Linked DNA regions of Homo sapiens. The protein of the gene in region 4 purifies or fractionates together with the protein of the main gene of each other region. This does not show direct contact. Each region holds a gene or a part of one and is shown on either strand. Other genes may lie near its edges.

Region 1 (7,608 bases), on a different chromosome or scaffold from region 4:
ATATATATATATGTATGTATATATATACATATATATATATTTTTTTTTTTTTTTAAAGAAAGAAAAAGAGACTGGGTGTGGTGCCTGTAATCCCAGCACTTTGGGAGGCTGAGTGGGGAGGATCACTTGAAGCCAGGAGTTTGAGTATTCAGTAAGCTATGATCATGCCACTGTGGTCTACCAGTCTACGCTGGGCAGCAGAGCAAGATCCCATCTCTCTCTCTCAATCTCTGTGTGTGTGTGTATACATATATATATATATACACACACATACAGTAATACATATATATAGTAATTTCAGATTACCATAGATTACTATATATAGATCTATACAGGGATATATAGATATATATAGATCTATAGATATATCTCCCTGTCTATATATAGAGATAGATATATATAGATAGATATACAGAGATAGATCTCTCTATATCTATTTATATCTATCTATATGTATATCTATAGAGAGAGAAATTTTAAAAAGAAAAAATAGGCTGGGTGCAGTGGCTCACGCCTGTAATCCTAGCACTTTGGGAGGCCGAGGCAGGCGGATTGCCTGAGCTCAGGAGTTCGAGACCAGCCTGGGTAACATGGAAAAACCCTGTCTCTACTAAAAATACAAAAATTTAGCCAGGCGTGGTTGTGCGTGCCTGTAATCCCAGCTACTCGGGAGGCTGAGGCATGAAAATCCCTTGAACCTGGGAGGCAGAGGTTACAATGAACCAAGATCGTGCCACTCTACTCCAGGCTGGGTGACAGAGGGAGACTCTGTCTCAAAAAAAAAAAAAGAAAGAAAGAAAGAAAAAGAAAAAGAAAATAACAAGTGTTGGTGAGGATGTGGAGAAATGGGAACTCTCATGCATTGTTGGTGAGAATGTAAAATGGTGCAGCCACAGTGTAAAACATTTTGGAATTACTCAAGACATCGAATACAATTACCATATGTCCCAACAATACCACTCTTAGGTATATACCCAAAATAATTGGAAAAAAAATTAATCAAATACTTGTACACCAATGTTTCTAGCAGTACTACGCACAATAGTGAAAAGTTGAGAGCCAAGCGCGGTGACTCATGCCTGTAATCACTTTGAGAGGTCAAGGCAGGCAGATCACTTGAGGTCAAGAGGTCGAGAACACCCTGGCCAACATGGTGAGATCCCATTTCTATTAAAAATACAAAAATTAGGCGGGGCACGGTGGCTCAAACCTGTAATCCCAGCACTGTGGGAGGCTGAGGCAGGCGGATCACCAGAGGTCAGGAGTTCGAGGCCAGCCTGTCCAACATGGCAAAACCCTGTCTCTACTAAAAATACAAAAATCAGCCAGGCATGGTGATTCATGCCTGTAATCCCAGCTACTCAGGAGGCTGAGACAGGAGAATCACTTGAACCCAGGAGGCAGAGGTTGCAGTGAGCTGAGATCATGCCACTGCACTCCAACCTGGGTGACAGAGCAAGACTCTGTCTCAAAAAAAAAAAAAAATTAGCCAGGTTTGGTGGCACATGCCTGTAATCCCAGCTCCTGGGGAAGCTGAGGCAGGAGAATCATCTGAACGATTCCTCCGATAAGGGGGAGGTTGCAGTGAGCCAAGATTGCGCCTGCACTCCAGCCTGCAGCACAGAGCAAGACTCTGACTCAAAAAAAAAAAAAAAAGGTGGAAACCACCCATGTGTCCATAAACAGATGAATGCTTGAACAAAATGTGGTATATCCATACAATGGAACCTTAGTCAGCCATAAAAAGGAATGACATTCAGGTATATGCTATAACATGAAGGAACCTTGATGACAAGGTTTATTTTACCTTAGTAAAATAAGCCAGGCACAAAAGGATAAATATTGTATGATTCCACTTATATATGGTACCTAGAGTAGTCAAATTCATAGAGATAGAAAGTAGAATGGTGGTTGCCAGAACTGGGAGAAGGGGGCATGGGGAATAATTATTTATGGGATGCTGCAGAGTTTCTGTTTGTGATTAATGAAGTTCTGAAACTGTAGAGCGGTCATGGTTACACAACATTATGAATGTGCTTAATGCCACTTAACCAAACACTTAAAAACGACAAATCTTATGTATATTTTACTATAAAAATACATAAGGGGATTCATAGCTTTTCAAAATGCTTCTAGGGAGTATAGGAGAGGGGGAAAAAGCCAGTAGTCCTCAATGCAATGAGCCCTACACCAGCAACTTTAAGGCTGAGGCAGAGAAATGTAACTGTTAGAGCCACACCACCTGGTCAGCTTTTTTTAAGTGTGTGTGCGTGTGTGTGTGTTTGTGTGTGTGTGTGTGTGTGTGCATGCACATTTTGTTTTTCCTTTTTGTGGAGCACTATATTCCCCAGGCAAATCTCAAACTCCTGGGCTCAATCTATCCTCCTGCCTTTGCTTCCCTAAATGCTGGGATTACAGGTGTGAGTCCAGCAGCTTTTTTTCTTTTCTTTCTTCCTTTTTTTTTTTTTTTTTTTTTGAAACAGGGTCTTGCTCTGTTGCCCAGGCTGGAGTGTGATGGAGTGATTATGGCTCACTGCATCCTCCAACTCTCCAGCTCAGGCGATCCTCCCATCTCAGCCTCCCAAGTGCAGGTACCTGGGACTACAGGCACACACCACCACACCCAACTAATTGTTAATTTTTTTGTAGAGACGAAGTCTCCTTATGTTGCCCTGGCTGGGCAACTCCTGGGCTCAAGCAATCCTCCTGCCTCGGCCTCCCAAAGTGCTGGGATTACAGGCACAAGCCACTGCGCCCAGCCTTGGTGAGCTTTCTGAACTCAAAGCTGAGTAGAGACCTGAAGTAACTATCAGGACAATATGGGTCAATAAAACTCATCCTCCTACTTCCATTCGTGTCTGAGTTAAAACAGTATCTTCCACTTAAGTGCTCATTTCTCAAGTTTTGATTTTAAATATAAAAACAGCCTAAAGGTGCTTACTGTGTTTACTTCTTTTATATTTCAACTATCTGATTTTTTAGCAGTGTCTAGGGACAAAAACTAGCATTTCTCTGAGACCATCACATCCCCAATCTGACTGCTATGTGAATGGTTTGTTGGGTGCCTGGAATGGCTTGTTTATGTAAGCTCTCACCTGTAATCCCACACTTTGGGAGGCCGAGGCGGAGGATCACTTCAGGCCAAGAGTTCAGTTCAAGACCAGCCTGAGCAACATAAGGAGATCCAACCCCCTACCCCCATCCCCACCTCCAACCCCAGCTCTACAAAAAAATTAAAAAATTAGCTAGGGCCAGGCGCCGTGGCTCACGCCTGTAATCCCAGAATTTTGGGAGGCCGAGGCGGGCGGATCACGAGGTCAAGAGATCGAGACCATCCTGGACAACATGGTGAAATTCCCGTCTCTACTAAAAATACAAAAATTAGCGGGGCGTGGTGGCGTGGGCCTGTAGTCCTAGCTACTCGGGAGGCTGAGGCGGGAGAATCGCTTGAACCCGGGAGGCGGAGGTTGCAGTGAGCCTTTGCGCCACCGCACTCTAGCCTGGCGACAGTGAGACTCCATCTCACCAAAAAAAAAAAAAAAAAAAAAATTAGCTGGGAGTGGTGGCACGCGCCTGTAGCCCCAACTACTCGGGAGGCTGAGGCGGGAGGATCGCTCGAGACCAGGAGTTTGAGACCAGCCTGGGCAACATAAGGAGACCCAACCCCCCCGCCCTTCAGCTTTACAAAAAAATTAAAAAATTAGCCAGGAGTGGTGGCGCCGCGTGCCTGCAGCCCCAGCTACTCGGGAGGCTGAGGCGGGAGGGTCGCTTGAACCCGGGAGTTCAAGGCTGCAACGAGCTATGATAGCGCCACTGCACTCCAGCCTGGGCGACAGAGCAAGACCCTGTTTTACACAGACAAACAAAAACGAACAAAAAGGTCACAGCGAACTTTGTTCAAAAGTCACATTAACACTTAAATGCCTTAACCCGGACTGAAAGCCCGGGCTTAGGACACAGGGCAGCTCTCCCTCAAAAAGGGGTCTCCCAGCAACACCCAATCCACAAGTTGCTCCTCGCCCTCCCCAAACCGGTACAAGATATATCAGTCTCTGGGCAGCTCCAACGGATTCTGAAGCTACGGGAGGGACTAAGGAACAAATATGAAATGTCGGACAAATGAAATGTGCGCAACAGCTAGGTTTTGGAGGATAAGCCAGTTGCTGAGCGACTTCTCAAATCTTCCAAGTGCCTCCAACACCTCTCCCACCCGGTAGGGCTGCGCTCTTTAGCTCTTTCAACCTTCCACGACCGGCCTCTCCGCTGCCCTATCAGCAAATCATCGGGCCGGTGCCTGCCAGTCCGGGCCAATCCCGAACACATTTACTTTGAGCGGGAAAAGCTCAGAAGCGGCGAGAGAGCGTGGTCCGCTAACCGCCCCTTCCTCTCCTTGTCTCTGGGGGGTAACGGAGCCTGGAGTGGTCGCCCATTGGATGGGCATCGGACCAATGGCGGGCTGCGAAACGGGAGGGGCGGGCCTCACAGCGGGGCGGGGCGCGCCTGTGCCGTGTCGCGTGCCGAGCCGCGAGCCCCAGGCAGGCCAGGTAACGGCCTCTGCCCCCGCCCCTCCCTCCCCGCTCGGACTTCCCTTACCCGCACACTGGCTCCAGGCAGCGCCCGGGCGGCGGAGGCGGCTGCGGAGACGGCGGGGTGCGGGCTGAGGGAGCCGGGCCTGGACGCCCCCCCCATCACCCCCGTACCCCAGGAGCTGTGCCTAGTCCAGGAGAGGCTGGGGGGCGCCCCATGGAGGTGAGACGCGGAGACACCTGCCCGCGCCCTCACCCCTCAGGCCTGAGGGAGGAAGGACTTGAGGTAATGGATGAGGAAGGGCAGGGTCCAGGGGGCGGCCAGACTTGCAAGAGGCGACGAGGAGGAGAGGCTGAGGAGGGGGCGCGTCCCTAGACGGGGCGGCAGAGGCGGGTCGTCGGTGGGGAGGCCGAACGGGGCGGGCGGGCGGGGGGCGCGGCGCGGGCTGACTGGACGGGCCGGACGGAGCGCGGGTCGCCGCGATTCCCGGGAGGCAGCCGTCGCGCTGAGGCGGTGGCCGGGGAGGGGCGCCCCTCGGGGTCAGCACTCAGGGGGCCCGAGGGGAGAGTGAGAATCCCGAGGCTGGAAGCGCGGGCCCCCACATTCGTGTCCTCTGAGAGGGTTCGGAATTGAGCCGAACAGCCGAGGTAGAACAGGTGTCGGGCCGTTTCAGCTCCGGCGTCACCCTCGTGACCACTTTCTGATATTTCCTATTCCCGTGTGCTGCAGCCCAAAGTCGCGTTCCCCGGAGGTGCGAATCGCTGTTGGAACCTCGGCGCCGACGCCGGCAGCAGGTTAACCGACGTCTTCGGCAGCGTGATGTTGACTGGCTCCGCTTCCTTCTACGATTGCTACACATCGCAGGTCCTTTAGTAAACTCTGCCTCTGTTAGACGATTTATTCTCAAATGGATTTACTCGAGCCACCGATTCATAGGTGTTTAATGGCTCCACAGTTAAGGAAGAGAAAACCAGGGAAAACTTTTTTTTTTTTTTTTTTTTTTTGAGACAGAGTCTTGCTCTGTCTCCTAGGCTGGAGTGCAGTGGCGCCATCTCGGCTCACTGCAACCTCCGCCAGCCGGGCTCAGGCGATTCTTGTGCCTCAGCTTCCTGAGGCACGCGCCACCACGCCCGGCTGTTTTTTTTGTTTGTTTTGTTTTTGTTTTTTGTTTTTGAGATGGAGTTTTGCTCTTGTTGCCCAGGCTGGAGTGCAGTGGTGCGATCTCGGCTCACCTCAACCTCTGCCTCCGGGGCTCAAGTTATTCTCCTGCCTCAGCCTCCGGAGTAGCTGGGATTACAGGCATGCGCCACCACGCCTGGCTAATTTTGTATTTTTAGTAGAGACAGGGTTTCTCCATGTTGGTCAGGCTGGTCTCGAACTCCCAACCTCGGGTGATCCGCGCACCTCGGCCTCCCAAAGTGCTGGGATTACAGGCATGAGCCACCGCGTCCAGCCGTTTTGTTTTGTTTTTTGAGACGGAGTCTCCTTCTGTTGCCCAGGCTGGAGTGCAGTGGTGCGATCTCGGATCACTGCAACCTCTGTCTCCCTGGTTCAAGCAGTTCTTCCGTCTCAGCCTCCCCAGTAGCTGGGATTACAGGCACCTGCCATCATGCCCGGCTAATTTTTGTATTGTTTTTAGAGACCGGGTTTCACCATGTTCCCCAGGCTGGTCTCGAACTTCTGGGCTCCAGCCATCCTCCCGCCTCGGCCTCCCAAAGTGCTAGGATTTCAGGCCACAGCGCCCAGCCCAGGAACAATTTTTTTTTTTTTTTTTTGAGACGGAGTCTTGCTCTGTCGCCCAGGCTGGAGTGCAGTGACGCAATCTCCGCTCACTGCAAGCTCCACCTCCCAGGTTCACGCCATTCTCCTGCCTCAGCCTCCCGAGTAGCTGGGACTACAGGCACCCGCCACCACGCCCGGCTAATTTTTTTGTATTTTTAGTAGATACGGGGTTTCACTGTGTTAGCCAGTATGGTCTCGATCTCCTGACCTCGTGATCCGCTCGCCTCAGCCTCCCAAAGTGCTGGGATTACAGGCGTGAGCCACCGCGCCCGGCTACAATCTTTTAAATACAGTGTTTGCAGAATACATACTTTGCTTTGAAAATAAGTTAAGGGCCGGGCGCCATGGCTCGTGCCTGTAATCCCAGCACTCTGGGGGGCTGAGGCGGGTGGATCACCTGAGTTCGGGAGTTCAAGACCAGCCTGGCCAACATGGCGAAACCCCATCTCTACTAAAAATACAAAAATCAGCCGGGTGTGGGGGCAGGCACCTGTAATCCCAGCTACTTGGGAGACTGAGGCAGGAGAATCTTAAACCAGGGAGGTGGAGGTTGCAGTGAGCCAAGATCATGCCACTGCACTCCAGCCTGGGTGACAGAGTGAGACTCCCTCTCAAAAAAAAAAAAAAAAGAAAAAAGAAAACAAATTGAAGAATAAGATTTTTCATTGATTCGTTTCCATCTTGTCCTTAGCATAACATAATTCCAGAAATGTAAGAAAATCCATTATTTAGTAAGATTAAAATATGTTTTTTTTCGTTCAGGCATTTATTGCAAGTTGGTACAAACATATTTTTGATAATTTAAAGGTGAAAATTTCACTTTACTCCTTTATTTTCTGGTTTTAACAATGTCTTAAATTATATGCTACCACTTACCTCACCAAGACATTTAGATTTATTAATCAAAGGAAATAAAGCTTGGGTAATGTAAGTAATTTTCATTTGAAATTATTTAACCAGGACATCAATGTTGATATTGTTGTACTTTGAATTATAACAATATCTAGAAATAAATTATTTTATTTAATCCACACTAAGAATCTTGTATATTATTATGCCACTGTACAGATTGAGAAACTGAGCCTCAGAGAGCTTGATTTGTGCCCTAAATGACAAAGCTCAAGTGGAACCCAGACCATAGTTCCACTGCTCTCTGCAGTGTTTACATCCGGACTAAAATTTATTTGGATTTAATTTCAGTTCACTGTTTTAAGTATGTTAAGGATATAAGTGATACATTTTAAAGTTAATCCAGTTAATATGCCCACTCAAATATTTGCATATTTCCTGGCCTCTGTT
Region 2 (4,099 bases), on a different chromosome or scaffold from region 4:
CCCCATGGAGGTGGCGGTCTACCAGCTGCACAATTTCTCCATCTCCTTCTTCTCTTCTCTGCTTGGAGGGGATGTGGTTTCCGTTAAGCTGGACAACAGGTAACCGCTGGCCCCAGCTCCGGCGCCTCCCGAGCCGGGGCGCCGGCCGGAGCTGGGCTAGGAGCCCGGTCTCTGAGCGAGCTGTGTGCCGCCGGTCCCTGTTCCCCGCGGTGCAGCATCCTGGGAAGGGGCGGGGGGGAGGGGACGCAGGAAGGGGGGGGTCACCGCCGCTCTGGGATCCGTCATCGAAGCGTCCCTGCGGCCGCTGCGCCGTGAAAACCAGCTGCTGCAGCCGCAGAGGCAGCCGGAGGCAGAGGGGCGGCGGGCAGGACCAGACAGGGCTGGGCAGGGGGCTGGCCGAGCGCCGTGCGCCGCTTGGGAGAAGGCCGGAAGCTTACCAGCCGAGAAGGAATTCCTAGCTAGCTTCAGAGCCGGGTAGGTTTGCCTGGGACCTTGTAGGCCGGCTGTGGGGGACTCCCCGGGTCGCACAGCCCCATTGTTTGCATATTGCCCGAGCAGGCCACGGTGGCCTGCGCGCCCCAGGACTCGCAAGCAGCTCCGATCGGTTGGAACTCGGGGCGGCGGCAGCAGCGCTGAGCCGGCCTGGATGAGGAGATGCAGCTTCCTGCAGGGGCCAAGGAAGGATCTGGGGACAAACTGTCCGGAACTCTGGGCCAGGGAGGCGAGAAGGAGAGAGAGAGGAAGAGCCGAGGCAGATGGAGGACTTTGGCCACAACTGCCATGTACTCAAGAGTAGAACCGAGTGGGTAATGGGTCGCTTTGCTTTTTGTCTTGGCAGTGCCTCCGGAGCCAGCGTGGTGGCCATAGACAACAAGATCGAACAGGCCATGGTGAGTGGCATCACTGCGTCATTCTCATCCCCTGACTTAGCTGCTGCTTATGTAACTCTGGGCAGGATTGAGGGAATGGGTGAAAAAGCCCTTAGCCAAAACCCTGAGGAAGCCGACAGCCTGCCTCCTATCCGCACTGGAGGTGGAGTCTGATTAGAGTGGCACCTTTTAGGGCATTTCCAGTCTTCCCTTCCTGGGCTCCCTCCTTTCTTCCTCCCTCCTCCATCTCAGGTCTTTGCCGCAGGCTCTGACTCTCTCCTGGGCCTGTTGTTGGGCAGGGAGCTCAGACTCTTGCATTTGTGTGCATCGTGCAGCTGGCAAGGGGCTGAGCTCATTGGATGCAACAGCACTGCAGTGCCTCTGCAGAGCCTGGACTGGGGTCAGGAGTTGGGTGGAAACAGGAAGCGAAGCACCCCACCCCTGTCCCTCTCCTTACCAGGTAGAGGTCATACTCCAAGGAGCAGCCACAATGGCTGCAGAGGGTTAGGGCTTCAGCGGTTGGGAGCCACTTAATTGTGCCCTGGAGCTTAAGGACACCTTCCCTGCCCCCAGTGCAGTCATCAAATTCAGAGAGGATGCGGCAGTTCTGTACCTTTCCCCAAGGCCAATGTCCTGTGTGCTAACTGGCCGGCTGCAGGACAGCTGCAATTCAATGTGCTGGGTCATATGGAGGGGAGGAGACTCTAAAATAGCCAATTTTATTCTCTTGGTTAAGATTTGTACAGCAGACAAACAGTATGGGATGCATTGCAGGTCTACCCTTCCCCCAGATCTGGATCGGCAGCAGTAGGGGCTTATGTAAAAAGGGGGACATAGCAAACCACTGGCAAACAGCAGAAGTGTCACCCCAAAGGCCCCTCAGCAGCCAGCTTTGAAAGTCATTAGAAACTTGCAGGGGAGAACCTATCTAGTTCAAAGCTGGGCTCTCAACTCCAGCATAAGCCAAATCATGTAGCTCTCCTGAATGAGGGTTTAAGTGCTTCAGAGAAAGGTGAACGAGGAATTGGACTTGCCAGACCAGTTCACTGAGGGAAGGCTGGAGGGCCCTGGCATTAAGGACAGCACAGGCACACCAATGACAGAGCAAAGGTGCTGCAGAGGGGCCACGATGGCTAAGGAATGGCTTTGTTATGATTCCCTCATTGGCAGGATCTGGTGAAGAATCATCTGATGTATGCTGTGAGAGAGGAGGTGGAGATCCTGAAGGAGCAGATCCGAGAGCTGGTGGAGAAGAACTCCCAGCTAGAGCGTGAGAACACCCTGTTGAAGACCCTGGCAAGCCCAGAGCAGCTGGAGAAGTTCCAGTCCTGTCTGAGCCCTGAAGAGCCAGCTCCCGAATCCCCACAAGTGCCCGAGGCCCCTGGTGGTTCTGCGGTGTAAGTGGCTCTGTCCTCAGGGTGGGCAGAGCCACTAAACTTGTTTTACCTAGTTCTTTCCAGTTTGTTTTTGGCTCCCCAAGCATCATCTCACGAGGAGAACTTTACACCTAGCACAGCTGGTGCCAAGAGATGTCCTAAGGACATGGCCACCTGGGTCCACTCCAGCGACAGACCCCTGACAAGAGCAGGTCTCTGGAGGCTGAGTTGCATGGGGCCTAGTAACACCAAGCCAGTGAGCCTCTAATGCTACTGCGCCCTGGGGGCTCCCAGGGCCTGGGCAACTTAGCTGCAACTGGCAAAGGAGAAGGGTAGTTTGAGGTGTGACACCAGTTTGCTCCAGAAAGTTTAAGGGGTCTGTTTCTCATCTCCATGGACATCTTCAACAGCTTCACCTGACAACGACTGTTCCTATGAAGAAGCCACTTGTGTTTTAAGCAGAGGCAACCTCTCTCTTCTCCTCTGTTTCGTGAAGGCAGGGGACACAGATGGGAGAGATTGAGCCAAGTCAGCCTTCTGTTGGTTAATATGGTATAATGCATGGCTTTGTGCACAGCCCAGTGTGGGATTACAGCTTTGGGATGACCGCTTACAAAGTTCTGTTTGGTTAGTATTGGCATAGTTTTTCTATATAGCCATAAATGCGTATATATACCCATAGGGCTAGATCTGTATCTTAGTGTAGCGATGTATACATATACACATCCACCTACATGTTGAAGGGCCTAACCAGCCTTGGGAGTATTGACTGGTCCCTTACCTCTTATGGCTAAGTCTTTGACTGTGTTCATTTACCAAGTTGACCCAGTTTGTCTTTTAGGTTAAGTAAGACTCGAGAGTAAAGGCAAGGAGGGGGGCCAGCCTCTGAATGCGGCCACGGATGCCTTGCTGCTGCAACCCTTTCCCCAGCTGTCCACTGAAACGTGAAGTCCTGTTTTGAATGCCAAACCCACCATTCACTGGTGCTGACTACATAGAATGGGGTTGAGAGAAGATCAGTTTGGGCTTCACAGTGTCATTTGAAAACGTTTTTTGTTTTGTTTTGTAATTATTGTGGAAAACTTTCAAGTGAACAGAAGGATGGTGTCCTACTGTGGATGAGGGATGAACAAGGGGATGGCTTTGATCCAATGGAGCCTGGGAGGTGTGCCCAGAAAGCTTGTCTGTAGCGGGTTTTGTGAGAGTGAACACTTTCCACTTTTTGACACCTTATCCTGATGTATGGTTCCAGGATTTGGATTTTGATTTTCCAAATGTAGCTTGAAATTTCAATAAACTTTGCTCTGTTTTTCTAAAAATAAACTTGGTGTCTGACTGAGTATAAATGGACTGGGTGGGAGAGGCCCCTCACCCAGTAGGGGCTGTTTTGCTGACCCCCTGAATATCCCTTGAGCACCCTGTCAGTGCCAGGCCTATGCTGCAGCCGTGATCTCGTGTCATCTGCACAATACTCATATGAAGGACATGCTGTTTGCCCTCACTGTCTGGATAAAGAAACTGAGACTCAGCGAGTTTAAGTGACTTGCCCAAAGTCACATGGCTATTACGGGAATTAGGACTCAAGCCCAGATCCTTCCTCCCTCTCCTGCTCCGCTTTCATATGAGAGCTTCGGAGTGAGTGGCAAGGTGACTCATAACACACAACTGTAGCTTGAGGGGGTGATTTGGGAGGAAAGATACCCCGAGGAAGGCCCAAAAGAAACAGGCAGGGTATACATAGGAGGGAGCGAGAAGAGCGGAACCAAATCAACAGGCGTGGGCCTCTTCTGTCTTCTGAAAACATCACTGGGCTCACTTAATGCATTCTCCTTAATACCAATCCACATGTGACAC
Region 3 (7,032 bases), on a different chromosome or scaffold from region 4:
CCATTGCTTGCACAAAAAGTAAATAAATGATCATATGATGGCAACATTCATCATAAGAGAGCCAGTAGGCAGTGACTGTAAGCATCACAGCCACCAATTATGTCATTTTAGAATTGTGAGCAAATTCACAAGAACACACAGTGCAATTTTTAGCTGCATACATTTCTTCTGAGCTCCAACTCAGCAATATGCAATCTTGACATCAAAGCATTAGCCAAATATTTGAGGAAATTTTCTTACTAAAATACCAAGTATCTGATAAATCAATTTTACCAAAATATATAAACATATAGAAGGATAAGTGCATTTAGTAGAAATACTTACAATAAAAAAATCTCTTAAAATCTATGAGCCATTCAATGTATACACAACGCAAGAAGTGGCAATAAGGCTATGATTACAGCTCCAGGTCCTGACTGACCTCGCCAAGTTCCATACACAATATATTTTTTAATGCCATGTGATTGCAGTGTGTGTGCGTGTGTAAGGTGGGAGTGATATTCACACATATGTAGTTCTGAACATCTACACAAACGGCATGCACATTGTTGAGAAGTTATCTGTTCTCTTATTGCATACATCTTACTCACTGTTGAATCCCTAGCAGTTTTGGGGTTGGGTTAGGGTCAAGCATAGGAAATCATCATATTTCTTTCCTTCTCCACTCTTGAGGATCTGGAATCAGGTCACAGACTGTGCTGGGTCCACACGCTTACATATGTGAACCTTCAAGTAACTACCATTCCCTCAATAGGCCCACATAGACACCACGGACAAGCAAATAAGGACCCTCTGTCTACCATAAATAGAACTTGATGCTTTCACTTTCCAGGAGAAGCTGATTCTGTCGGCTTTCTCTTTGCCCCTCCAACTTCTTAGTTGGGCCTATTCTATGCTGCTACTTCAAGTTACTCAAATGTGTTTTGTCTGGTGTTATTTTTTTCTCCAGTGTTTTGGACCAAGACTAGATTTCCTGAGACTTTAAATACGCAAGACAAATGCAAACAAAATCTGCCAACATACCCAGGCTGCTTTTCAGGAGTGAATCACTGAAGCGCATTTGGATTTCCTATAACACTACTTTCTTTTGGGAATGTACAGCCCTCCCCCAGCTCCCCATCCCCCATCATAATGTAAACCATTCTAATAGAAAATATGGATGTTTTGGCTGGGGGTGGTGGCACATGCCTGTAGTCCCAGCTACTTGGGAAGCTGAAGCAGGAGGACCACTTGAGCCCAGGAGTTTGAGGCTGCAGTAAGACATGATGGCACCACTGCAGTCCAGTCTGGGTGACAGATGACAGAAAAAAAAAAAAAAAAAGAAAAGAAAAGAAAATATGGACATTTTATTTCTGGACTTTATCCTTAAATGCTTAGCTTTAGAATAGTGCACAGGTACATCCTTAATAAAAAGTAAATTTGAAAAGACAGGAAAGGACTGTGCTTTTCTCTTCCATTTTACCTTTTCATTCTGAGACCACTAAGGTCTTTGCATTAAGTAGGTGACGTGAACCCTAGTGACCACTGCCCACCAAAATGCCCCTCATCTCCAGCTCTGTCAGGAGTACCTTTAGTTACTCAAATGGAAATATCTCAGTGTAATGATGGGGCTACAACATATCCAAAGTATAGATGGTTCTCTCAGGGCTGCTGGGGCAGCTTCCTTTAGAATCCTCTAGAACACTATTGTTAAACACTGGATCTCCTCTTGAAGTTTAGTCTGCATAACCTTTAACACTTAAACATGAATCAGAGTATCTATATAAATGCAAATTTTCATTTCCCTTTTATAAAATGCAATTTTCAAGCACATGCTAATTCTGGTGCACAATGAACCCAGACAAATTTGTCTTCAGCACAAACTCTAACGGCCGAGGTGCTAGATCAAACCACCTGTGACCATTTTTGTAGCTTGGGACTGGGATATTTTAAGATTTCAGGCTAGTGATGATTACAGGGTCACAGATAGTGGCAAAGGTAAATCTGGTTCCTCATTTTCCCTCTTGCCACTTTGTTTCCAACAACAATGGAGCAAAAGGTGACAGTCCCATTTTGTGCCAGTTGAAAGCTGAGTTTGGCTTTAGTACCTATCATACTGCAATCATGAACTGCTGTGGGTTAAAAAAAGCTTGTGATGTTGAGGGTGTGAAATCAATTGTCAATCCCAGCTAAAGGATGATAGCCACAGAACAGCTTTATTGTCATGAAACTAAAGGGGGACTTCATCAGGAGTGTTAGAATGGATGAAATGAGGTTTCTTCCCTAACTTAACATTCTGCAGAAAATTCCTGATTCAGGTAAAAAAAGAATGAGATTAGTATTACATAAACTGTGAGTTACTTGAAGGGAGATGGTCTTAAACAAAGTAATCTGTTATAAAACTAACATCCTTTAATGGGAAACCCTGACCCAGATACAGCTCATACAATGCTTTCTGTCTGCAGCTTGGCCTCCTCACCACACATTCCCTCCCAACAAAGCATAACCTATACCCCAAAACACTTTTGGCTATTGTTAGAATCATACTGAGCTCTCCTTTAGGGAATCAGTTCATAGCAACCAGATATTCCCTTTTTGTTCATTTTCTGATAATAAAAACTGCAGTTTTTAAGGTTGATGAAATAACAATTCTGTGTTAAATTGTAAGGACACTGAAAACCACTAGCATTAAAGTAGGAATTGTGCAAGACATTGGAGCCTTGATTAGGTATCATGCACTACAGTCAATAAAAGAAATAATAGGAAAACAAAATGTGCACAAGATCTGAGGTCTTTCACTTTGCTTTCATACCCTTAATCAGTTTACATCTTATGCTTTGTGGGGCAATCAAACCAAATGACTTTTACAATTTCATCCGTTTTAAGTGGTAATGTTAAAATAACTCACTTCGGCCTAAAATTACTATAATTTAACTTAAAAAATCAAAATACTTATAATACTAAATGATTTTAGGAATAAGAATTTGATTTATAACATTGTCAGTTGGACATTTATCTAAACATTCAATATACAAAGTTATAAAGAAAAATACTTCTAAGATATTTAAGAAAATGCAATATAATAGATCATAAATTAGGTGCAAAAACAAGACACTTACAGACATTTCCAGTATATACATCCATTTTCAAATATTACCAAAGTGTAAACATAACTTAAGATAATCATCCTTCTATTTCTACTCTTGAATACAGTGAAACTTCCAGTGTGATCCAGGTCACTTTTTTCCCAAAGATAAGCAAAAATGGCAAAAATTTACAATAGCAAGCACTAATATTACCAGATTTTTACTAATTTAGTGTTTTAGTATTTGAAAAGTTTTGCCAAATTGTATCACTCATTAATAGTGGCTTCTTATTTCTCATGATGTGAAAAAATAACAAAGCACCAGACATCTCAAGACATTAATAGAGTATCCAATACGGCAGTTTCATTATCATACCCCTAATGAAGACAGACAGAAAAACATAATGGTGACTTTGATAACTGTAAAACACAATGTTACTTCATGTCAACGTTTCTGAGGATTGAATGAAGGGTCTGTACCTAATGACAAAAGAGCTGACGCATAACCGACAATACTCTGGCAATGAAAAGAAAACAGGCCTTGGGGGTAAAACAGAATTAAAAATGTCCAGTTTAGATAATTTCTGAATTCAGATTTTCAGATAAAAAAAAATCACACTGTTATTAAAATACAAGATGGGGCTACAAGGGAGTTCCCTTAATCTGTTACACTCAAAAGCCTTGCCGAGGCTCTAAATATGGAATACTTCTAGTGGAAGATACGAGATGCTGGGAACAGAGCAGAGATTCCCATAAAGTAAAAGAAGTAAAATACTGTCCAAGAATTCATGTGGCCTCAAGTCTTATTCTGAAACTTGTCCTTTGGAAAGTGGATAACCTCATTTTTAGAGTCAACGCAGCAAAGAGAACCAGATACATGAGCATAAAAAACAAAAAACCCTCATCACATGAAATTTCTCAAAACGAGTTTATTTTCTCCTTCTTCTGCCCCAGTCTCCTGCACTTGACTTAGTTTGGTGAAACATGGAAATCCTTAATGCTGGCTTAAAATTAGTATAAGTTCCTCCACTACTAAAGTATACCTATGCACTGCCTTAAACAAACTTTTTCTGTAAAATTGAGAATCTTTGAAGTATGGAAAGGAATGGTTCGGAAAAACCATTCAAAATCTCTCTAAAATGTTAACTGACAGTTTCCTCTAACTGGTATTTCTATTTTTCTTAAAAGTACATTTGTTAAAATACTAACTGAGCCCACCTGGGAAATCTTGAGTAGAAAATATGTGATGAGTTCCTGATTGTGACATAGGCAGGCTGAAGACCAGCCAGAATGTTCCCCAGGAGAGGAAACCTGAAAATGGTGGTTTCCTTAAAAATCAATTTCCTGTTCAATTTCTTGGGTTAGGTAGGGGGAAGAGGAACTGTGTTGTGTTTGCCAGTGTTGCTGAAATGCTGAACACACAGCAGTAGCAAGGTCAACAGATCCCAATATCCCATGGCTGCATTAATGTCTGATTTTTTTCTTTCTTGTTCAGCCGTATCTAGAGGATAAATATTACCCTCAGAACCCCAAGGTAATACCCACATCCACATTCTTAAGGCTTTTGCTTTTTTCAGTGGTTAACAAATAGCTATAATTTATTTTCTTTCTTTTTGATGCCTAGCAAGCAGAATGACTTGCTTGCCTTTTCCCTTAGTAGGTAACTACAGAGCAGAGCACCCATGTTTCCACAGCGGGGTGGTCTCACTGTCCAGACTGAGAATTAAGAGCAAATCTTTCCCACACATTGGAGTAGGTGTTGCAGTCCTAGAAGTTAAGTACTGGTCTCAGATCTCATGGCAGGGTGCTCTCTGCCATGCAGACATGTGCAATTGCCATTTCAGGATCCCACACTGAAAATTCACGGCGCTCCATTAACAACACCAGGGTGTGTCATGCTCTTGGGTGGGGTCACACTAGTTCTCCAAGTGACAAAACACACCCAACACAACACAAGATGTTGGTAAGTTAGAGAAGAGCAAAACACAGCTACTTAAATGAAATCTCTGGTTTGTTAATGAACCAAAGGTGGCTTGGGATTATTTTAGTAGTTAAAATTAAGAGTGCATTCTATTGCAGAAAATGCAGTTATTCAACACACAGTTCCTCAGCCGGCCTAGAGCCGCATTACCCTTATCATTTAGTTTCTTTTTCATCCTCTGGAGGAGAGCAGGGCAGGAAGAGGTGGGGACTTCTCTTGGAGCATCTCCATCATCTGTAAGAGGGTATGTGTTACTGCTCACCAGCACCCTCGGCTGTAGTTGACGTCATCTTTTCTGTCTTTTTGGACTTCCTCTGCATTTGCTCTTGCTCCTTTCTCCTTAGCTTTTCTCTTTGTTTTTCCATTTTCTCTTGGGCCTTCCGAGCCTTCTCTAGAGACATCTTCATTTCCTTGAGTTTCTTTTTGACCACTGCTCGGTCCTGGGATGCTGTCATTCCAAGAGCCTAAGAAAGAAACACACACACAAACTGAATTTGAAAACCAATGAGCCCTCTGATGGTGTTAACATACCATATATCCAAGTTCGTAAACTAATTCAAACATTGAAGAGGTAAGAACAGAGGAAGAACTAGTTACATTTGCTAAAAACCAACACACTGGGGGCTACCCTTTATTTTTTCTTTTGTTCTTTGAAGTCCCTTGCAAAGTATACCCTAAAGCTCATTAATTAAATGCTTTCCAAATGAGTAATTAATGGGTGAATGAATGGAAAAAGGGCACAATTCTACTTCTCCAACCTTTGGGCTGTAGGCATTTACGGGTAAAGGTATTGCTAAACTCATCAATATTTTCAAAGCATAGGAGTGAGCACCTGCTGTCACAGAGGGCTCCAAGAAGGGCAAGAAGAATTGAAATGGCTTCCTTTCTGCCAATGTTTTCATTACAATGAGAACCAAAAATGTCTTTGGGGCCAGAATGCTCGTGTCAGCATGACTAGCCATTCTTTCCCTGTAGGCAGACCTATAAAGGAAGTTGATTATAATGAGGAGGTTGCTCGATGAACTTAGAATTCAGAATAAGGGGAGTTGCTTATGTACTTTAAATGTTTCGTGACCTTCAGAATCAACAGCAGGATGCATCTATCTATCTCCCCAACAGGGACAGCCTTGTCAATGAGGCCTTCATATTCACAAGCTATTGATTGATCTCTAACCTTTTCAAGATTGTCAAGAGATACTCGTCTGCCCGTCAGCCCAGCAGGGGGCTGAGGCGGGGGTGGGGCTTGGGGGTACATGGAGTTGGCTGTAAGCACCTTTTTCCCTTTCCCAAAGGGATGGATGCCACCTTGGTCTCTAAGAGAGATGGACTGGACAAGTGGAAATGAAAGTGCCATGGAGGGGAGGGAAGATGTGTGTACATATTTGGGGAAAAAACTTCTGGGGAGAACATCATCCCAGTTTGGGAGTGGTGTGTAAGGAAGAGTGGAGGTGAAGGAGAAATGAACAAGGAAAAGAAGACTCGTGGATCTGGGTCTTAATTCTAATGTGATGAAAAAGTCCACAGTGGCCATTATTAAAACTCATACTACATCAGATGTAAGGAGAGTTAATATATGGACCATGTGTTGCCAGGTGGAAGCAATGGAGTGGGTCCCTCACTCTCCTAATCAGCAGCCTACCATTTGATTTGGAACCCCTGATGGACTTTCTGAGACTTCATTTACTACTCAGAAAGAATTCAACATCCTTTCTGCTGAATATTGATGAGAATTACCTCTCAGATATGCAGAATGCTCTTACCTAATGAAAACATTTTAGGTGATATGAGTAATACAAATTATACCTGGTAACCTAAGACAGACATATAATTCTTTACCTTAAGTTTATTTCCATCCAACTGCAGGAGCTGTTCTCCAGTGATGTTTTGGGCACTGAATTCAGATACATACTGCTCCAGATTTAGGCTCATTAACCAGTGAGAAACCTGCTGCACACTCCATTCCTGAACGGCCCGATTCTGACACTGA
Region 4 (7,032 bases):
AGGCGGAGGCCCAAGACACTGCCCCGGGGCCCTCAGTGCCCTGGCCCATGCCCTGCACCACACGGGTGGGCTGTGTGCGTCCACAGGTATGACAGGTGCGAGGGCTGGAGCCCACTAGCATCACCACGCTGGGCGGGCTCCCGATCCTGGAGCTCAGGGAGTGGCAGACGCTGCAAGCGTGTGCCTGGCAGGACTGGAAGCAGCGATGGTCAGATACTGTCCTGGCTCTGCCATCCTGGAACCAGCTTCGGTCAGACATGACCCCGGCCCGGCTGCCCAGCTCCACCCACGTGACGGGGTGGAGCATCTGCCAGTGCCGGGCTTGGTCCCGGCGGGTGCTGTAGCCGCGCCAGGCAGACTGGATGGTCGTGGTGGCTCTGCAGAGGTGTGCCAGGTTCCGCCGCACACGGTAGCCGCGCCAAGTAGCTTGGATGACCATGGCCCCCCGGTGCCACAGCCGGATCCTGCGACGCGCCAGGTAGCCACGGACGCCCGCCTGGATAGTGATCACTGCGAGGATGCGGATCTCCTCTGCAGCCTGCATGGACACCATTGGCTCCCCGGACCGCCTGGGAGGCACCACCGCCTTGTTGCGCCAGGTGTCCCAGGACGCAGCACCCCTGGCTGGCTCCCATGCGCGGTTCCACGATTGGCCACCAACCACACCAGCGTCCGCGGGGCCCTGGAGTATAGTGGAGTTCAGGGATGCCTTGTGACTAACGGCAGGATTCTGGGGGCTATAGGAGTCCTGCCGTCTCCACGGTGACTCCTGGTTAAAAAGGGGTGGCAGGGAACCACTTGGGGAAGACTCATAGCCTAGAGACACCCTCCGAACTCCCGGGGCCAGCGGAGGAATGACCGAGGAGTGTGTCATCTCCCCAGTGCGGATGACGGGCCTTACCTCTGCAGAGGGCCTGTGGGTGGGGTTTGCACCACTTCGGGCTGAGGCCTGGGATGGTTGTCTTTGCACATACTGTAAGGGCCTAACCCTGGCCACAGAACTTTCTAGCAGTTCTGGAACAATCCTACCATGCACGGATCTGTAGGAATTTTTAGGGCCCATGGCGTCCCAGCGGCTGCTCGGAGCCATGTTTCCAGACACTGTTTTCTGGAGTGGATTGGGGACAGCTTCTGTCTGGAAGGGACTGGACAATGCCCTTCTAGCCGAGGACGGATATAGTGGCACATGTGAGACCATGCTGGTGGTCCCTGACCTCTGAAGAAGACTAGGATTCCCCATCCTGCCCACAGACACTGAAAGCAATCTGAAAGCCTCAGTACTGCCACGGGCCAGCTGGGGTGATCCTGAGACTACATTAGAAGCCACTGTACCCTGAGAGTGATTTGGGGGTATGACGTGAGTGACAGACCCCTGTTGATAAACTGAGGGGGACTTAGTGGCTAAACCCGGGGCCTGGAAAGGGACAGGGACCATGCCACTAGCATGGCTGGGAGCCACCTCCCTTGGGGAAGAGACCCTTTCTCAGACAGGGACCTATGATCATGGCCCCCATCAGCTCCCAGAGGACTGGAGTACATCCACTGGGTTGCACCAGTGACCCTGGCTTTGCTGAATAGGTCATTGGATCCACTTGATCCTGACACTTGGAACACAGCCTCATCCAATTCTCCTAGCTTGGCTTGGTCCCCTGTGACCCCAGATGGCATTATCCTAGCATCTTGGCTCAATTGTAAGGCTCTTGATAGAACCGTGGGCACTCGGTGTAGACTCCTCACTGTGCCACTAGCTGCCGGGGCTGAGGAGTGACCTGGAGCCAGACTGGTGGTGTGGGGCATCTGCAAGGGGGCTAAAGACCTCTCCCCAGCCAGGCTTTGAGGTAAGGAGGGGCAGTGATGTCAATCACCATGGGCCCCTTGGAGCAGCTCTGAGCCACACTAGAGGCCCCCATCATTGGCACAGAACCAGGGGGACAACTGGGCTCACCCGACTCACTACTGAACCTGGGAGCAAGTTTGGAGCAGCTAAGCTAGCGGAGGGTCTTACAGATAGACTTGGCTTCTTTCTGTCTGCCATCAGACTGGGAGCCACCCAACTGGACACAGAGCCTGCGGGAAGGCTGTGACCCATGCCTCGGATGGTGGAGCCCGGGGGAAGGCTGGAGGTTATGCCACCAGGCAGAGTGCCTGGGACTGCGCCCGTGCTCATTCTACTGGCTACAAAACCTCCTGCCGCACCACGACCAGCCCTGCTCTTCAGAGAGTCCTGCGGAATCACATCTCTCTGCTGGTAACTGGGTGGGACCATGGATGCCTCAGAAGGGTGCCAGCAGTCTATGTTTTTTGGAATAACCACACTGATCTGGGAGCTGCTGGGGTCCATGCTGTTCAGGGAAAGATTAGACTGAGTCACGGCCAGTCTGTTGGGCACTGAAGCCAGAGAGGGGCTGGGGGCCATCCCTGTGGTTCCAGAGGGATGTGTCAAAGGGCCACCTGCCTCTAAGACCTGGGATGCAAGGGAAGCCATGCCATTGGCCACCTGACATTGACTTTGGCCCATGCCAGTTGCTATGGTTCTCCAGGGGAGATTCCCAGCTAGGCCAGGAGATGTGGTCCCCTGAGACCCACTGGGGAACATAGCATCAGCCAAAGGCTCCTGGGGATGGCTTACAGCCACACCCCTGAACAGAGGCGTGATTCACTGGCCTACACAACAGGCCTCCTCATCAGCATGAGAGAGATTTGGTGTTGAAACACTAACCACAGAGGGTGGACACACATGCCTCCCACCAACCCTGGGTGGATGATGGAACCCAAGGGACACGTCGTTGAACTTGAAGTCCGGGGGGCTGGATACCATCTCACTAACCATCAGAGGTTCTTCACATAGGTTCACCCCAGTACCCAGGGATGGCTGGTTCAGACCCTGGTCCATATTTCCAGCCACAGAGGGATATGGTCCACCCAGGCTAACTGAAACAAACGCTGATGGGTGACACAGACACGGGGCTACTGAGTCCACCCTTGAACACTGCAGATTTGAATCCAGCCTAGAGCCCCAGCATGGCTCATTGAGGCCATGACATGTACCACTGACCACAGATGGCTGGGATCGGCTTGGGGCCAACCTAGTGTCCGGGGGTGACTGAGCCAGGCTTAGGGCTTCCGTGTGGGCCACAGATGGTGGGAATAGGCTGGGGGCTATAGCTGGCTCGGCTAGGCTGGAGGCTAGGGTACAGGATGAATTTGTCTTGCCTGGACTGGAGGCCACAGATGGTTGGGCTTGCCTTGGGGATACTGCAGTGGTCTGAGATGGGTGGGCTAGGCTGGAGCCCGCCCCACTGGCCACATATGGGTGAGCTAGACTTGGAGACAACCCATGGGGTCCTGATGGGTGGGCTAGGCTTGGGGACACACCAATGGCTTGAGATGGCTGGGCTGGGCTTAAGGACACCACACAGGTCATAGGTTGGTGGGCTAGCCTTGAAGACATCCCTGTGGCTTGAGACGGCTGGGCTAGGCTTGGGGATACACCACAGGCCATAGGTTGATGAGCTGGTCTTAAGGGCACTGCAGTGGTGGCCTGAGATAGCTGGGCAAGGCTTGGGGACACCTCACTGGGCATAGATCGATGAACCTGGCTTGGGGACACCATACAGGTCATAGATGCATGAGCTCTGCTAGGGGACATCCTGCTGGTTATAGATGCGTGAGCTTGGTTTGGGGACACCCTGGAGGCCACTGGTGGGTAATCTTGTCTAGGGGACATCCCACTGGCTTGAGATGGCTGGGCTAGGCTTGAGGAAACCCTACTGGCCACAGATTGGTGGGCTACACTTGGGGACACCCCAGTGGCCTGAGATGGCCAGGTCAAGCTTGGGGATTCCCCAGTGGACTGAGGAGGCTGGGCCAGGCTTGGAGACTCCCGAATGGCCATAGATGGGTGAGCTAGGGTTGGGGACACTCCAATGGTGTGAAATGGCATGGCTAGGCTTGGGGACACTCCAATGGTCTGAGATGGCATGGCTAGGCTTGGGGACACTCCAATAGTCTGAGATGACATGGCTAGGCTTGGGGACACTCTGATGGTCAGAGATGGCTGGGTCAGGCTTGGAGACTCCCCAGTGGGCTGAGATGGGTAGGCTGGGCTTGGGGACATCTCAGTGGGCTGAGATGGGTAGGCTGGGCTTGGGGACTCCCCAGTGACCACAGATGGGTCGCCTGGGCTTGGGGACACCTCAGTGGCCATAAATGGGTAGGCTGGGCTTGGGAACACCTCAGTGCGCTGATATGACTGGGCCAGGCTTGGAGACTCCCCAGTGACCACAGATGGGTAGGCTGAGCTTGGGGACACCTCAGTGGGCTGAGATGGCTGGGCAAGGCTAGGGGACTCCCCAGTGGCCACACATGGATAGTCTGGGCTTGGGGACACCTCAGTGGGCTGAAATGGGTAGCCTGGGCTTGGGGACACCTCAGTGGCCATAGATAGGTAGCCTGAGCTTGGGGACATCTCAGTAGGCTGAGATGAGTAGTCTGGGCTTGGGGACACTTCAGTGGCCACAGATAGGTAGCCTGAGCTTGGGGACACCTCAGTGAGCTGAGATGGGTAGCCTGGGCTTGGGGACACCTCAGTGGCCACAGATAGGTAGCCTGAGCTTGGGGATATCTCAGTGGGCTGATATGGGTAGGTTGGGCTTGGGGACACCTCAGTGGCCACAGATGGGTATTCTGGGCTTGGGGACATCTCAATGGCCATAGATAGGTAGCCTGGGTTTGGGGACACCTCAGTGGGCTGATATGAGTAGGCTGCACTTGGGGACACCTCAGTGAGCTGATATGGGTGGGCTGGGCTTGGAGATACCTCAGTGGGCTGAAATGGCTGTGCCAGGGTTGGGTACTCCCTAATGGCCTGAGATGGGTAGGTTGGACTTGGGGACACCTCAGTGGGCTGAAATGGCTGAGCCAGCATTGGGTACTCCCCAACAGACTGAGATGGGTAGTCTGGACTTGGAGACACCCCAAAGGCTTGAGATGGCTGGGCCAGATTTGAGGTTACCCCAGGGGCTTGAGATGGCTGGGCTAGGCTTGAGGGCTCCCCACTGTCCATAGATGGCTGGGCTAGGTTTTGGGACCCCCAGTTAGCCATTGATTGGTGACCTTGGTCTGAGGCCACTCTAAAGGTCCTTGATGGGTGTCCTCGGCTTGGGGACCTCCTAGTCACCACAGATGGCTGTGCTGGTCTTGGTGTCACTCTATTAGGCACAGAGGAGTGTGGTAGCCTTGGGGTCACCCAATTACCCATAGATGGGCAGGTTAGCCTTGGGGATACCTTACTGGATGCTATATGCTGGGATAGGCTTGGGGCCAGCCTACTGAACCCTGATGCCTGGCCTAGGTTTGGGGCTACCCTACTGGCCAGTGTAGCCTGGGACACAATTGGGGCCAAGCTCTTGGCCACAGATGGTGGCTTATATGCAGTGGAGACCACAGTACCTAAAGACAGAGTCCTCCTCAGCTCTGTCTTGACGGTTGCCTGGGACACCTCAATCAGATTCACAGAGCTCTTGCCTAAGGAGAACTTGTGGATCTCAGCCTCTGAGCCCCAGTGAACACGCAAGGTCAAGCAGTTAGACACTGAGCTGTGTTGGAAACTGGGCACTTTCTCCGAGGCTGGAGTGGGCCGGTAGGGGAAGTGTAGGGTCATGTACCTATAGCCGGTTTCAGTCTCTTGCGTATCCTTAAACCTCTGGAGTGTCCCCATGGACTCCGGAGGAAAAACAGACTTCACCGCAAGGTCCCCTTCTAAACTGCTTTCCCGTGACTCATCTATCTTGTTGACGGCAGGCAGGCTGGCCACAGACATAGTGGAAAGGCTGAGGGAACTAGAACTTTGCAGAGAGCTTTCGGAATTGTTCTCCTGACTGTAGGTCACAAAGCCCTGGGAGAAGCTCCTGGCCAGGTCACCGTCTCGATCCTGTGGCAAACCACCTACTGGCTCACCGAGGATGGATGGCTGGTGGTCTGTTGCTAGCTTCTGGGGGCAGAGCAGGGCAGACACAGAACCCTGTGTTCGATTCCTCCCCTGTCCACAGACAGATGTCTTGGGACGAACTTGAGCCAATGCACTGCCGGGGGAAGCTTGAAACAGACCATGAGTCTTGGATGCCTGAGTTTTGGTCACCATGGTGACCTGCAAGGGACTTGGGGCCCCCTTGTCTATCACCTCCCTAGTACCCGGGGGGGCCTGTTTGCGATTTGGGGGCTGATACCTCCTCCCCAGGCTCTCCCTGGAAGCCCTGGATGCCTGCTGCTGGCCTCTGGCCACTAAGGGTTGGTAGAGACCACGATGTACCCCTGAGGACTGACACCAAGGCAGGCCCCCACAGGTGAGGTAAGGCTGGTGAACATGGGCAGCCCTCCCACCACCCACGCTGCAAGGAAGCCTACCCGAGGCCACCCTGCCCTCCCTGGTCGATAGATAAGAGGCCACCCTGCTGACCACATGTGGCCTGTGGCAGCTCGGGGCTGTGCCATAGATCACAGAGGGCTGGTTCATGCTTGGGCCCACACAGTTGGCAATGAGAGGCTGCCACAGACTCGGGGGTGGCTGCATGTGGGACAGCTTGAGCAAACTGGGGCCCTCCCCACTCCCCTCGGGGTTAAAATCTGATGCCAATGTGCCAGGCTCCAGGGTCGGGCATGCTTCTTCCTTTTGGAACTTGGGGCTCAAATCCAGGTTTGAGGAGAAGTCCCTGCTGGACTCCATCATCTCCCGGGACAGCATGGGATACAGGCCAGTGATCAGGGGACCCTGGTGAATGCTGGTGATGACGCTACCCATCACCGAGGCTCCCACAGTGACCACAGATAAGCAGGGTGACCCCCACAAGATGGCCCCATCAATCCCCCATCTCCTCCAAGGGCCCGGCAGGTTGGCCCATGGTGAAACAACCCCAGATCCCAACCTGGGAATCCCTGACCTTGCTGGTCTGTGGTCTCACGGGGCCCAGGGAGGGCCCCCATGCGGCCGATGGACTCCTCCTGCAGGCCACCTTCACCAGGGCCGGCGTCTTA

What was found.
Region 1: the proteins of IQCN (region 4) and MEIOC purify together in Homo sapiens (affinity purification with mass spectrometry; 2 studies listed by BioGRID and IntAct, with this or other methods). This does not show direct contact.
Region 2: the proteins of IQCN (region 4) and TSC22D3 purify together in Homo sapiens (affinity purification with mass spectrometry; 2 studies listed by BioGRID and IntAct, with this or other methods). This does not show direct contact.
Region 3: the proteins of IQCN (region 4) and PPP1R9A purify together in Homo sapiens (affinity purification with mass spectrometry; 2 studies listed by BioGRID and IntAct, with this or other methods). This does not show direct contact.

The regions. Positions count from the first base shown.
Region 1 is NC_000017.11:44,651,871-44,659,478, forward strand, and holds the start of MEIOC (meiosis-specific coiled-coil domain-containing protein MEIOC), read left to right. Parts: upstream 1-4,597; 5' UTR 4,598-4,743; coding exon 4,744-4,812; intron 4,813-5,256; coding exon 5,257-5,391; intron 5,392-7,608. UniProt on the Homo sapiens protein: Is required for meiosis completion in both male and female germ cells. Confers stability to numerous meiotic mRNAs in gonads allowing proper initiation and progression into meiosis prophase I.
Region 2 is NC_000023.11:107,712,690-107,716,788, reverse strand, and holds the end of TSC22D3 (TSC22 domain family protein 3), read left to right. Parts: coding exon of another isoform or gene 1-99; intron 100-280; exon of another isoform or gene 281-474; intron 475-838; coding exon 839-890; intron 891-2,039; coding exon 2,040-2,270; 3' UTR 2,271-3,568; downstream 3,569-4,099. UniProt on the Homo sapiens protein: Protects T-cells from IL2 deprivation-induced apoptosis through the inhibition of FOXO3A transcriptional activity that leads to the down-regulation of the pro-apoptotic factor BCL2L11.
Region 3 is NC_000007.14:95,288,568-95,295,599, reverse strand, and holds part of PPP1R9A (neurabin-1), read right to left. Parts: coding exon 6,882-7,032; intron 5,510-6,881; coding exon 5,297-5,509; 3' UTR 1-5,296. UniProt on the Homo sapiens protein: Binds to actin filaments (F-actin) and shows cross-linking activity. Binds along the sides of the F-actin. May be involved in neurite formation. Inhibits protein phosphatase 1-alpha activity.
Region 4 is NC_000019.10:18,257,425-18,264,456, forward strand, and holds part of IQCN (IQ domain-containing protein N), read right to left. Parts: coding exon 6,939-7,032; intron 683-6,938; coding exon 1-682. UniProt on the Homo sapiens protein: Essential for spermiogenesis and fertilization. May be required for manchette assembly in elongating spermatids.